Linked DNA regions of Homo sapiens: region 2 is linked to region 1. The links come from fine-mapping of genetic effects on gene expression. A gene starts in region 1. The other region holds a variant in brackets. All regions are shown on one strand. Distances are from middle to middle.

The links.
Region 2: its variant is fine-mapped to the expression of LINC01962 in thyroid (GTEx, PIP 0.94).

The regions. Positions count from the first base shown.
Region 1 is chr5:181,189,734-181,194,116 of GRCh38, reverse strand. It overlaps LINC01962 (long intergenic non-protein coding RNA 1962), which reads left to right and starts at 2,209. Exons shown (of 2, transcript NR_108031.1): 1 at 2,209-2,375; 2 at 2,772-3,071. TRT-TGT6-1 (tRNA-Thr (anticodon TGT) 6-1) reads left to right here and starts at 2,359; the gene lies at 2,359-2,430. It overlaps TRIM7-AS2 (TRIM7 antisense RNA 2), which reads right to left and starts at 2,227. Exons shown (of 2, transcript NR_183285.1): 1 at 1,977-2,227. TRIM7 (tripartite motif containing 7) reads left to right here. Exons shown (of 7, transcript NM_203293.3): 7 at 1-193. RefSeq lists silencers at 1,881-2,220, 2,401-2,480, 3,101-3,230 and an enhancer at 2,241-2,420.
Region 2 is chr5:181,101,932-181,106,314 of GRCh38, reverse strand. TRV-CAC1-3 (tRNA-Val (anticodon CAC) 1-3) reads left to right here and starts at 3,990; the gene lies at 3,990-4,062. RefSeq lists enhancers at 953-1,452, 1,453-1,954. The variant AG/G (reference allele first, on the strand shown) is at 1,590.

The DNA.
Region 1 (4,383 bases):
ACCCTGGTGCCAAGGCCTTCTCAGCCCATGCCCTGGAGGGCATTCCCCTGGCCAGCCTCAGCCCCTTGTCTACTTGTTCTCCAGCTTCTGGGTAGCTGGGCTTCTGGAAGGGTGGCAGTGGGCTACTCCCTGCTCAGCGCTCCCCTGGGAAGGGGGTGAGGAGATGAAAATGAAACTATGAGCTGTCTTTGGAGTTGGCTTGGCCCATTTTCTACTCCCTAGATCTGAGTGCAGGAGCGTAAGTGTGATCAGGGTTTCTGCCAGAGTGAATGAGCATGCATGTTTCTGTGTGGGAGGAGTGTGTATTTGTATCTCACCTTTCTTGGGGGTGTGTGTGTGTATTTTGGAGAGGGCATTTATGAGCATGTGCATAAGGTTCAGGTGTTGCAAACAGACCCAAGTCAGTCTGGTCATACCCTATTGTTGATTTGTTGTTAAATACTGACCACCTCATATTTAGACAAGGGCCACAGGTTTCTTCTCTCACTACCTGGCTACCAGGCTAGATGAACAGAATACCAGACTCGGACCTAATTCTGTCCCACACAAGTTATTTAGACAGAGGTGCTGGCAAACAGGGGCAATGATAGCTGAATAGCCCTGTGTCATGGAGCTTCAGTGCTCTGTCTCTGAGGTGCTTCAAGCTCACCTGGCATATAGGGTTCTCGTGGGGCAGCCACAACACTATCCCAGAGGCAGGCCCAGTTGACACAGCACCAGACAATCAGAATACCGCATCCTCCAGGCTGAGGACAGGGTCATTTCAAAGTCCTGCCTACAGAAGCATTCCAGAGAGTGAATCCTATGTCCTGCTCATACATGGAGAGCAGCTCTAAAACCGGGTAGCCAATTCAGGCATTTGAATACCACTGATTTCCACAAGGAAAACCGATCTCTAACATTAATTTCCTAACTGAATCACCTATTGTTACCGTTAAGCCTTAATGTTATCTGGCTTGTATGGCTTTTTGATTAAGTATCATAATTCCCTTTGTACCATCCAACAAATGTGCTGGGCATCACAACACACATTACAGGTCCCAGAAAGTACCATGTCTGGTGAAGGTGTCACATGAGGGTCAGGTCTGGGGACTGGGAGTAGCTGTCCGCATGTTTATTTTCCGTTTTTGTGTCCATGAGTGCAATCGTGTGTCTATCAGAGTGTGTGTGTTTGCAGAGTGACTACATATATAGCTATGTATCTTAAGAAATGTAACAACAGTTACTGTAACAATTGCATAGAGAAGGGAACAGATGTTCTTTCTTGCTAACCAGGGCAGTACAGTAACTTGGATGTCAGGATGCTGGTGTCCTCGAGGGCATGTGTGTGCATTTCCCTCTCCTAGACTCTGGGCATCATAAACTCTAGGGACCTCTGGGTCTGTGAGAACAACTGGCCTAACTTGGGCCCTTCTTATTCAACCCATCAGTCCTAGCTGCTGACCCATAAGCGCAGGCCTCTGCCGCCAGACCCTCACAGGGACCCTCAGCATCCAGAATGGGGGGCACCTAGAGGCCCACCTCTGGCCTGGCCGCCCAGTGACCCAAGTCACCCGGCATTGCAGGGAGCACAGGGCAGGCTAGGCCACCAGACCAAGGTCCACCTCCTACACCCACCACTTTCTGTCCTTTGCCAGGCTGAGCCCTCATCCTTTTCCCCTCTCCTCCGGCCCGTGGGCCCTTTAAGGGCCCTGACAGAACATGTCAGGGTGTACCCTAAAAGCTGCCTTTTCCTACTTCATCCAAATGTGAGACGGGGCTGGCACCCACCCGCAACCTCGCCTGGACCCTTCCCACCCCAGCGCCTCCAAACACCTGGCCCTCCTGATTCCCCGCCTCCCCCGCCACACTCCCGCTGGGCCTCCACCTCCTGATGACCCCACTGTTCCCCCACCGCCCAGCTCGCCCCAGGTCCCGCCCTAACCTCTCGGATCTGGACTCCCTGCAGGACGGGCGCACTGACACCCTTCCCTGACCTTTCCATAGCCTTGACCTGGATCCCCGCTTCCTCACGCACAGCAAGACGCAAAACGTGCTCCCCAATCCTGCGCACGCCCTTCCCTGGCCCCCGCCCCGCCCAAGGCCCGGGGCGGTCCTCACAGCTCGGAGCTCGGCGGTGCCGCCCCGCCCCGACAGCTCCCGCCCGCGCGCGCGCCCAACGACGGCACTGTCTTCGCGGAGCCCTCTGCCGGGACTAACGGCCGTTCCGTGCCACGGACGCACGGGCAAGATGGCTGCGGCCGTGGGAGGAGCTTGGGTCCAGCAGCCACAGAACTCGGCCGAGGGTTCAGCGGACTGCGGCTGCGCGGCGCCGGCGACAGCGTCAACTGCTTTTGTGTCAAAAGGAAACCAACAGCCGGCTCCATAGCTCAGGGGTTAGAGCACTGGTCTTGTAAACCAGGGTCGCGAGTTCAAATCTCGCTGGGGCCTGCTTCCGTCTTTTCCTATTCTTTCCTTAAAGATAGAAAAGTGGAAGATAGGCAAGCCTACTTCCGCCTTCCTGGGAGGCCAGAGCCTGGCGGAGTCACTTTCTTTTTGCCTCTAAGATACCCACCGCGCAAGGCTACTTTCCTACCACTTCCTTATCTCTTGAAGAGTCAGACCCACTGCGGGCTTCCTTTTCCATCACGGGTTCCCTGGGCCCCGCGCGCCCTCTCCCCACGACCCCGCTCACTTCCTTCTGCGCGCTCCCCGGGAGCGTCTTTCCGCTTCTCTCCGGTCTTCCCACTCCAGCTAGGGACTCGCCCTCGTGTCTCCTTCCCTCTCTCCAGGGGGAGACGATGGCACTACCGCGCCCCTTCCCGCCATGCGTTTGTTTGCGGCGTTCCCCGACGCGCGCGCTGAGGCTCTGGTCTGCGGCTCTGCGCTTGGCGGCTGCGCGCCCTCGGCCTTCGGGTCCCCGCCGCCTCCGTGCTGCAAGGTCTGATTTCTTCCTGTGGAGTTAACACGGAAAAGCGCAGACGGCCACATTCATGACCCGGGAGTAACGGCTCTACCTGTCACATTCGCTTTCAGCCTAAAACAAAATTTTAGTTTATTTTAGACAAAATATATAACTAAGGTATGCTGGCCTTCTGACTGATTTATTCTTGCTGTTAACGGAAGTGTAGAAAGTGAGCCCAAGTCCTCAGTGAACAGTGGGGGCGCTGCCCAGGTGCAGGACTGGCCCCCTGGGGGTCTCGGGACGGCTCCCGCCTCCGTCTTCCCCGCACCGCGCACTTTGGAGGCCTGGGCACAGGTGGAGGCGGCGCTGGGTCCCGCCGTACACTCCCCTGTCGCAGGCGCCCTCTCTCCAGCCGGAGGGAACCTCAAAAAAGCTCTGAGCGAGTCCCCGTCCCAGGTGGGGCCGCGGCTTATACCGGGACCACTCCAGGGTAGCTCAAGGTTCGAAAACGGAATCCCTGTCCGGTGAACCAGAGAAGAGAAAATCGCTCGGGGCCACCTGGGTAGAGACCGGAGGGGTGACTGCCTTGACTGGGAGGCGTGGAGGAGCGAGCGGGGTCTGCGGCTCCGGCCGGGAGGTATGCGCTTCCCTCTCTCACCCATGCCTGCTCCGGTCCAAAGAGCCGAGACCGTGGGTCAAGACCGGGATGGATTCGCTCGGGAGAGGCCAGGAGCCTGCCAGCACGTTCGGGCACTAGCGCTCCCGGGGCTCCTCGGACTCGTGGACCCCGAAACGCCTGCCCCACAGGAAGATCACCCCACTGTAGAAGTCGGGTCACGGGGACCAGTGGCGAGCTACCTGACGGCTTAACTACAGATACCCTCCCGACGAAAGCCGTGGACTCCCAGGGTGCGTGCGTCTGCTTGTGTGTGGGGGTGTTGGCAGGCGGTCCCCATAATCATCGAAGAGACAGGTGGATGAACCTCAGGCCTCGCACTCGGGGGCTCTCAGAGTCTGGGCGTTACAGCCGCTCCCGTACACTCACGGGTCACCTGGCTGAATCAGGTGGGATCTGGGTGAGGTGCCGGGAGGTCTCCCAGGCTGGCGCTCCTGTCCAGCTGCTGGGGGAGGCGTGGGTGCGAGGCTTGGGACAAGGGAGAGCTATGCCGGGTGGGGAGGACCCTTGGGGCGGGTCCGTTCACCTGAAATGTTCACTGCTGGAAGAGCCGAAAGCCAGCCACGGCACCCAGGGGAGTCCAGCGTGGAGAGGCAGAGAGGAGGGGCGAGGACAGTGGCGGTCGCAGACGGCGGAGCAAGATCGCCGAGCGTGCGAATGGAAAAATGAGCATTGTTTCCTCGGAGTAGCTTAACCACCATCCCACGCTGTTTTACAGCAGTGTAGGAAATGTCTCTGCTGGTGACACAAAAATAAACCTGTGCATCAGCTCTGAGTAGATTATCGCGAATTTTACAGCAGGAAACCGCATCACTATTTTTAC
Region 2 (4,383 bases), 88 kb after region 1:
ACATTTCTTGCTTAGCCAATTGCCAATGTTGCAATGATTTATAGAACCCACCAAGGGTAAGGAATTGGCGGCCTAGCACCCTGCTTGTGGGAGCACAAGGGGCTCACCTGCTAGAGGGCAGTTTGGGAGGAATTATAGACATGAAAGAAACCTTTCTTTTACACCAGCCTTCCAGGGCTAGGAAAGTCTTCTGAAAATCCCAGTACAAAGAAATCTGCACAAAGATAAGCCTCCATGTATTACTAACTGTAATAACTTTGGTCCTGGTGCAGGAAGAACCAAGAAGATCAATGGAGTGGAACTGAAGCAATAAAGAGACTCAAATGTGTTTGGGAATTGAGCACATGGTAATGGTGTAGTTTCATTGGAGAGAATAGAGTTACCTGTGTAATAGAAAACCAAGTCAAAAGCAAGAAAAATTAATGGTGAAGATAATTTTGTGGTTACAAAAAAAAAAAAAAAGGGAAGTGGGACTGACTGCATGGGACTGGAGGGAGAGAGGTGGGTTAGAGCAAGTTTGGTTTTTTTCCCTTTCCCTTGGTCAGCAAACTACCCTCAAGCCAAACCCAGCCTGCAATCTATTTTTCTACCGCCCAGTGAGCTAAGAACATTTTTTACACTTTTTACTGGTTGAAAAAATTAAAAGAATAATATTTCATGACATGTGGAAATTAGATGAAATTTGAATGTTGGTGTCTGAGTCAAGTCCCATTGGCACACACGTCCCATTGGCACACAGCGCCTCCCTCTCGTTATGTGTCACCTTTACTGGCTTTGGCACCAAAAGGGCAGACGTGGGTACTTCCGACAAAACTGAAAAGATTCCATACGTGGCCCTTGCAGAGAAAGCTTGCAGACCCCTGCTTTAGAGAGAGGAGGTATGAGAGTTTAGGCTTTGGTGTGGGTGGCTGGGGAGGTCCCCTGGTTCAGGAAATGGTGATTCCAAGGGCGGTTGCTGTCTGGGTTCTGGTGCTGTCCTCCTCCTCTGTCCACCCCATATCTAATGCATTCTGAGTGCTCGCTGGGCAGTCAGTGCAGGGCGGGACAACAGTCACGTGTTGCTTCCCAAGACATACAGTCACGGGCCCCTTAACAACAAGGATGCATTCTGGGAAATGGTGATTAGGTGGCTCTTGGAAGGTGCACCTCATTTACCCCTAGGCTGGGTGGCATAGCCCATCGCTCCCACGAGTGATGTCTGTGCTACGACAGTACCACGGCTATGACATCCCTAGGCCATAGGAATTCTTCAGCTCCATCATAGTCATGGGACCACTGTCATGCACGTGTCCCTCCTTGCCTGGAAGGTTGCTGTGCAGTGCATGACGGCACTTCCATGTCAGCGGGTGCCTCGCTGGCCCATCTCCTGCCCCTGCTCACTCTGTCTGCCACCTTCCAGCAGCTCCCCGCCCTAAAGCCATCCTGATGCTGCTTTTCCGCCATTTCTTCCTCTGTGCATGTTACCCCAAACTCCACAGGGGCTGCTGCTTGCTTGACATGCATTCTGGAACCTTCCGGGATCCTGTCCCAGTGCCCCCGAGCAGAAGCGGCAAGCAAGGGCCAACTCAGCCCAGGGCTGCCTCTGTCCA[AG/G]GCCCTCTGTCCAGGTCGACAGGCATCTTCCCCTCCCCAGGGGGAGTGCAGGCTCCAGATGAGTTTCTGTCTCCCCAGCTGAGAACCTTTGTCTTGGTTCGGGTTGCTGTAACACAATACCATATGCCAGGCTGCTCAACGAACATTGATTTCTCACAGTTTTGCAGGCTGGAAGTCTAGATCAGGGTGCAGCACACTGGAGTTCTTGGTAAGGATCCTCTTCCTGATTTCTGCCCAGCTGCCTTCTCACTGTATCCCCACGAGAGAGGGAGAGGAACCAGCTCTCAGTCTCAGTTCTGTCTCCCTGTGAATCTGAGAGTGCGCTGAGGCCAGGAACCTTTGTCCCCAGGCGCAGCTACTCCAGAGGCTGAGGTGGGAGGACTGCTTAGGTCCAGGAGGTTGATGCTGCAGGGAGCTGTGACTGCACTCCAGCGGCGGAGACAGAGCAAGACCCTGTCTCAAAAGGAAGGAAAGAAGGAGAAGAAAGAAAAGGAAGTTTTCATGCCCGACGCGGTAGCATAAGGGGGCATGGGAGACCGGACGAGAGGGTGTGGCAGCGACCGCAGGGAGAGGAGACGGCGGACGCGGAACTGTGCGGGGTTGGCAGTGGGCTTGGGGGTGGCACAGCGGGGACGCGCTGGCACCGGTTTCTGAGAGGGGACATTCGGGAGAAGCTGCCTGGGGAATGGGAGGCCACGAGTTCGGGCGTGGAGACGGAGCTTCAGGGCCTGGAGAAAGGGGAGTGGAAATGACGGAGGAAGTATCCGTATCGCATCCTCGGTTTGCCCGAGAGATGTCTGTGCCGCCACGTTTACCGCAGCGCTGTTCACAATAGCCCAGATCTGCGAGCAAAGGCAGCGGCCGTCGGTGCAGGAGTGGGCGGAGGCACCGAGGTGGATGCGCAGCAGAGCACCACTCAGCCGCAAGAACACGATAATCCCGGCCGGGCGCGGGGGCTCACGCCTGTAATCCCAGCACTTTGGGAGGCCGAGGCGGGCGGATCACGAGGTCAGGAGATCGAGACCAGCCTGACCAACATGGTGAAACCCCGTCTCTACTAAAAATACAAAAAATTAGGGCGCGGTGGCGGGCGCCTGTAGTCCCAGCTACTCGGGAGGCTGAGGCAGGAGAATGGCGTGAACCCGGGAGGCGGAGCTTGCAGTGAGCCGAGATCACCCCACTGCACTCTGGCCTGGATGACAGTGCGAGACTCCGTCTCAAAAAAAGAAAGAAAAGAAAAGAAAAGAAATACCTGAGGCTGGGTAATTGATAAGAAAAGAGGCTTAATTGGCTCATGGCTCTGCAGGCTGTGCAGGAAGCATACCGCCAGCTTCTGCTTCTGGCGAGGCTTCAGGAAGCTTCCAATCACGGCAGAAGGCAAAGAGGGAGCAGGCACATCACATGGCGAAGGTGGGAGCAAGAAGGCGGGGGGTGCCACACACTTTTTAAAACCTTATCAGGGGAGAACTCATAATAGGGAGGACAGCACCAAGGCCGTGGTGCTAAACCATTCATGAGAAATCCATCCTCATGATCCAATAACCTCCCACCAGGCCCCACCTCCAATATTGGGAATTACATTTCAACGTAAATTTTGACGAGGACATAAATACAAACTATATTACTACCCTTAAACAATTGGAAATTGCTTTGTTTTTGAGAAATAAAAGAATGCTGAATTCTGTTCTGTTGCTTTGGTTGTACACTTTAGTGAAAATTGAAAGGTTATGTTAATTTCTGAAGAATTATAATGATAAAAAACGGTGCAGACACAACCTGCACTTTGCAAGCATTGCAGACTTAAGTTTTTTGGGGGAAACTATACATAATTAAATAGTTTCCCAGTGAGCTCAGCCAGCCCATTCAGGGCAGTGCCCAGACATATGCTTGTGGCAAACTCTAGCCAAGCAACTTACCTACAGGAGAAAAAAAGACTCACTGTTTCAAGAGGAGCTGTGGTGCTTCTCTCCTTTCTCCTCTTTTTCTTGTATAAACCCTACATTCACCTGTATTCAACAAAATCAGCCAACTAATTGGTTTCTGTGTGTGTATTCAAGAAAATCAGCCAACTAATTGGTTTCTATGTGTGTATTCGAGAAAATCAGCCGACTAATTGGTTTCTATGTGTGTGTATTCGAGAAAATCAGCCAACTAATTGGTTTCTGTGTGTTTGTGTTCAAGTGAACGTCCACATTCACTCAGCTGTGCTGTGTCTCTGAGCTACTCTCTGACTCTGCAACCCTCCCCTTTTAAATGGTTGCACTGGACTCTGTATTCTTGTGCGCTCATACCCATTACCAAGCTCAAAGGGACCCACGGAAGAAGCTCAGAACTCTTATGAGAAATAAAATACCGCCGTGTGTCGTGACTAATTATGATGGCAGAAAAGCATCAAGCCGGTTTCCGTAGTGTAGTGGTTATCACGTTCGCCTCACACGCGAAAGGTCCCCGGTTCGAAACCGGGCGGAAACAGTTCCTTCTACTTTTCACTTAACTGCTTCAAATTTATTACACCGAAGACTAGCCTAGAACATCCCACCAATATCTCCACCCACTTAAGGAGAAAAGGCTATCAAGGGTATTTATACCGTTGCCTTTCCGCCGCAATCATTGGCATCTGGGAAGAACGGAACCCACCTCACTTGCTGTTGACACCAGCATGACGAACTCCCCACAAAGCCCGTCCAGTGGATGGATGCACAATGCCAAATGGAATTCCCGATGCCGGGAAAGCGTGGGGCCCAAGGCGACTTCCTCCTTTTGTAACCCATGAAGGGACAAAAATGGAGGAAT